2 separate regions of the Homo sapiens genome follow, and region 2 is linked to region 1. A link means that fine-mapping ties the variant in region 1 to the expression of a gene that starts in the linked region. Tissue or cell type: whole blood. Region 1 holds a variant in brackets; the other region holds the start of a gene. All regions are shown on one strand. Distances are between the middles of the regions.

The links. PIP is the estimated chance that this variant, and not a neighbour inherited with it, causes the effect.
Region 2: it holds the start of BMERB1, and the variant in region 1 is fine-mapped to the expression of BMERB1 in whole blood (TOPMed, PIP 0.99).

The regions. Positions count from the first base shown.
Region 1 is chr16:15,519,301-15,522,056 of GRCh38, reverse strand. The region is part of intron 2 of MPV17L-BMERB1 (MPV17L-BMERB1 readthrough); the gene reads right to left. The region is part of intron 2 of BMERB1 (bMERB domain containing 1); the gene reads right to left. LOC105371102 (a long non-coding RNA gene) reads left to right here and starts at 1,046. Exons shown (of 3, transcript XR_933129.3): 1 at 1,046-1,131. The variant T/C (reference allele first, on the strand shown) is at 1,116.
Region 2 is chr16:15,433,104-15,435,603 of GRCh38, reverse strand. BMERB1 (bMERB domain containing 1) reads right to left here and starts at 1,016. Exons shown (of 6, transcript NM_033201.3): 1 at 845-1,016. The coding sequence starts at 950. The region is part of intron 1 of MPV17L-BMERB1 (MPV17L-BMERB1 readthrough); the gene reads right to left. RefSeq lists an enhancer at 90-712.

The DNA.
Region 1 (2,756 bases):
CGGGTTGGTAGACTAGATGTGGAAAAGCTGAAGCGAGCCAGAGGGGCTGCAAGAAGAATTATTAAAAACTAATGATGTGATTCAGTGCTGGAAGGAAGGCGAGAAAATGAGTCTGAGGTTGTTGACAGCCTCTGAGAGTTCTTGCCTGCAGTAAGATGGGGGCAGGATGGGTAGGGAGATGGGGTAGCAGTGGGAGGTACTAGGAGGTGGGTGGAACATAGGGTCAAGAAGTGAGAAAACACAGGCGTTTCAAGCATTATCTGCCAGATGTTTGCTGCCTGTTTTCCGGAGGCAGTTTTGTGTTACTGCCCTGTTCCAGTAAAGTTGATAAAATTGCCAAGCCTCAAGAAAGAGATCTCTAAATGCCATTTTGCACATTGGAAACCAGGGGTCAAGCAAAGGGAAGTCAGCAAGGGAACACACACTGGAAATTCAGAGTGAGGAGCACACTCAGAGTTCACACCTGCCTGCTGGGAGCTCACTTATGGCTGGTCTGTGAACTTGACCTCCTGGGCCTGATTCAGGGCAAGTGGGTGTCCTGGGTTGGGGTGGTTCCTGATGCATCTTTCTGTTAGTAAGCATTTGATGTGGGTTATGTGAGCATGTGTGTAAAGGGCTTAGCACAAGCCTAGGTCCACAATAAGGGGTCTGTAAATGCCAACTGTTGTGGGCCTTAAGAGTTATTACGGGAACCGGGTTCTTTTTCTACAGCACATTCCCAGCAGACTGACTTCACAAACTTTGACTGTCTGCATTGGAGCTCATCATTTTGGTCTCTGAAATAAACAGTTTATGTGCAGAGAAATGGTGATACTGAAACACCAGGGGTTTGGTCTAGGTCCTGCTGCTCGCCGCATAGAAAGCCCATCACTGACAAGATGAGTATTGCCAAGGAAGATTTTAATTGCGTGCTGCAGCCAAGGAGATGGGAGCTCAGTCTCAAATCCATCTCCCTGACCAACTAAAACTAGGAGTTTACATAGCAGGGAAGAAATGTAACAATGTATAAGAAAACAGGAACTCGGGAGGAGCAAGGAAGCAATCATGAAGAAAACAGGAACTCGGGAGGAGCAAGGAAGCAATCATGATGAATGAGGGGTCTGGTATCTCATCTC[T/C]GGATGTGGTAATCTGGTGAGTTTCAGTTCTTTGATATTTTTTGAGAGGCCTGGGGGTCCCTTCCTGAGGAAATAACTCAGATAAGACAAATGAGGGCTTCAAGCTTTAAGATCAGAAAGGTCAACTTCTGTATTTATCCAAAAGAGTATCTATGGGCCGGGTGCAGTGGCTCATGCCTGTAATCCCAGCACTTTGGGAGGCCAAGGCGGGAGGATCACGAGGTCAGGAGATCGAGACCATCCTGGCTAACACGGTGAAACCCCGTCTCTACTAAAAAATACAAAAAAAAGTTAGCCAGGCGTGGTGGCGGGCGCCTGTAGTCCCAGCTACTCGGGAGGCTGAGGCAGGAGAATGGCGTGAACCCGGGAGGTGGAGCTTGTAGTGAGTCCAGATCGTGCCCCACTGCACTCCAGCCTGGGTGGCAGATCGAGACTCTTGTCTCAAAAAAAAAAAAAAAAAAAAAGAACATCTATGATGGGACTATTGGGTCAGTTTCAATGGTACAGAAAAGTCCAAAGCCTGACTTAGTAAAATCTGTCCAAGTTCCACCACACACAATTCAACATTGCAGAACAAGACAAGACCAAGTGTGGGACTGGGGGCATCTAATCGGGGGTTTGTCCTTGCGTTGTAAAAGAGTAAGGCAAAGAGAAAAGGGGTCCTGGCATTGAGAATAAAGATAACAGAACAGCTTAAGGTTAAGGGCTCTGCCCCCACGAGACAGACACCTTGGGTTCAAATCCTGGTACTACTTTATCCTAGCTGGTGACCTCGAACAAGTCACTTTGCCTCTCCGACCTCAATTTCCTCATTCATAAAATAAAAGAGATAGAACTTACTCTATTGGGGTTCTTGCGAGGACTCAAGAAGCTAAAATTAAGGGGTGAATGCATGCAGGGGACGTAGCACTCAGGGTGGCATATCAGTGCCCGCGGGAAACAGCAACTCTGTGTGCTCCCTCATGTGTCCAAGGTCACAGACCAAGGACGTCAGAGAGCCAGGATGATGACCTCTGATCCCACATCTCCCGAGTTCTCACCATTCCCTGGGAGTAGGGAAATCTCCCTCCTCTTCTTCCTCACTGTCGTGGCAGGAAAAGAGGAAGAACAGGCAGGGGCTGTGGATCTTGGGGGAAAGGACAAGTTAAATCAGCTGAGAAAAAGGAAGCCCATGAAATAATCTAAATGTGAGGGTGCCAGAGCTTTGGGGCTGGGGCAGGCAGTCCCCCCCGGACTCATGCTTAAAAGAGTCAATGCAGGCTGGGTGCAGTGGCTCACACCTGTAATCCCAAGGAGGCCAAGGAGGGCAGATCACTTGAGGCCAGGAGTTCAAGACCAGCCTGGCCAACATGGTGAAACCTTGTCTCTACTAAAAATACAAAAATTAGCTGGGCATGGTGGTGGGCACCTGTAGTCTCAGCTACTTGGAAGGCCGAGGCACAAGAATCGCTTGAACCCAGGAGACGGAGGTTGCAGTGAGCCGAGATCGCACCACTGCACTCCAGCCTGGGCGACAGAGCGAGACTCTGTCACAAGAAATAAAAATAAAAGAGTTAATGCTGCGAGAAGCATTGGAAGTGAGACACATTCTCAACCATGAAATAGGGGCTGACTCACATGGTCTCTGCAGCAGCTGATGGG
Region 2 (2,500 bases), 86 kb after region 1:
AGCCTGGTGGGCAAGCCATGTGAGAGCAGCGGCTTTGGGGAGCCCCCGGGTTTGCAGGGACCTCCAGTGACCCTGGAGCCCCTGACGCTGCCTCTACACTTTGAGGGCAGGAGTTTCAACTATTGTATCCTATTAATGAAAAACAAAATCCTTCGTTTACTTAGAAATGTTGACATCCAAACACCGCAGAGAGAACCAGTAAATAAATACAGCCGGTCTATTTCGAAACTGCCTTCTAGAGTTGTGCCCAAGCAGACTTTAACTGAGTCAAGAGAGAAAAGAGAACGGTGTGTGCCTTTTGACCCTTTTGCCGCCCCAAGCCTCCCACCCCGACCCAAGGAAGGCGAGGGAGGAAAAGCTGGGAATTTCAGGTGCGCTCCGAAACCTCACGCAGGGGGTAGGAAAGCAAGCGGAAAACCAGCAGACACTCCCCCCTCTCCAGGGACGTGGGCGCTTTCCAGGACGGTCCCGCGTCTCCAGCGCCCTGGCGCATCCCAGGCGGAGAGAGGATCCTCCTCCCTGGGCTGTGGGAGAGACCCGACTTCACAGGACCAGCTGCGAGCTGACGGATCCGGGACTCCTAAGTCGAGCCCAGGCTCCTGCCTTAGCTGCCTGGCCATCTCCCAACCCTCCCAGTGAGGCTCAGCCCGGAGGGTCCCCCCCTTTTGTTCGCGGGGAGAGCGCGTCGCTGCGCAGAGCTGCGTATCCCCCTGAGCTGCCAGCCCCGCTGCGGGGGCGCTTCCCTGGGTCCACTGCTGGCGTTCCTCGCGCTCCCGCGACCACCCGCGCAGGCGCATGGATCCCCAGCTGTCCCCGGCCCCCCGCCCCCCGCCCCAGTACTCACTTCTCCCCAGTCTCTCCGTTTTCCAAGCCGTCTCCTCCACCGCCCCATAGCGCCTCAGAGGCTTCTCGGCTTCCAGATGGGTGGACAAAGATTGCTTTAATTCCATCGCTGATCCCCGTGGCCAGGTCGACGGGTCTCCCTTTACTCCATTCCCGTTGCGGGCTGCAGGGAGGGAGGTGGCTCCAGCCAGCAGCGTTTTAACGGGCCGGGCGCCCGTGACGCTGCTCCCTCTCCTCCGCCGCCGCCAGCGCCCGGGAGCGCCTACGGGTACCCAGAAGGGGCAGGGATGCACGGCACATGCGCAGTGGAGGCTTGGAGGGGAGGCTTGGGGGCTGGGTAGGGAGACAGAGGGGCAGGTGATAACTCTAAGAAAAACAACAAACAAAACAACTAAAATAAAAGCAACACAAAGGAAGTGAGAACAAGGCCCCTGCCTATTCTAGAGCCCCTAGTGATGCTTGGCATGGGGCTGGCACTGTGGGCGGCTTGCGAGCTGTAAGCCGGCAGCGGGTTTTGAGTGGGATTGGTGAGCCCGTCTCTACCTGCGGGCGATGCATCCGTCTTTCTGGGGAGCATGCAGAGGCGTGAGTGTGGACCTAGATCTATGGGTTCTGGGCTTGGCTGACTGCTTTTCTGTGAGAATATCTGTCGTGTGCGTCTGTTTAATTTGAAGTGCGACAGTGGATGCCTATGTCAGTTCCATATGTGTTTGCATGCACTTTGGGGAGAGAGAGAGAGAGATGAAAATATTTTGCACACAGGTATAGCAGAGCTGTTTGGAGCATGGGGCTTTACTTTCCAGAAACCCCAGAGGTTTATCTTTAAAAACAAACAAACAAACAAACAAAAAACACCATGGCAGTGCCTGGGCACGATGGCTCATGCCTGTAATCCCAGCACTTTGGGAGGCCGAGGTGGGTGGATCACTTGAGGCCAGGAGTTTGAGACTAGCCTGGCCAACATGGTGAAACCCCATCTTTACTGAAAATACAAAAATTAGCCAGCTGTGATGGCGCAGGCCTGTAATTCCAGCTACTCGGGAGGCTGAGGCAGGAGAATCGCTTGAACCTGGGAGGCAGAGGTTTCAGTCATCCGAGATCATGCCATTGCACTCCAGCCTGGGCAACAAGAGGAAAACTCCGTCTCAAAAAAAGAAAAGAAACGAAAAAAAGAAAATGATATCCCAGTAGGAAACAGGGAAAGAATATGAATAGTCATGTCATGTGGGCAGAGGAGGAAGGCCTAATGTGAGAAGCTGCTCAACCCCCTTAGTAATAAGGAAAATGAAAATGTAAATAAGAATATATCATCCGATAGGCAAAAACTAAAAAATCTAACAATCATGTGTTGTAAAAGATGTGGATTTTTTTTTTGAGACAGAGTCCAAAAATGCTGGGGTTACAGATGTGAGACACCATGCCTGGCATAATTTGAACTTTTATCTAATGCTAGTGGGAGTATAAATTGGTACAACTGTTTTTTTCTCTCTGTCACCCAGGCTGGAGTGCAGTGGCATAGTCTCGGCTCACTGAAACCTCCACCTCCTGGGTTCAAGCTCCTGAGTAGCTGCGACTACAGGCGTGCCACCATGCCCAGCTAATTTTTTGTATTTTTAATGGAGATGTGGTTTCACCATGTTGGCCAGGCTGGTCTCGA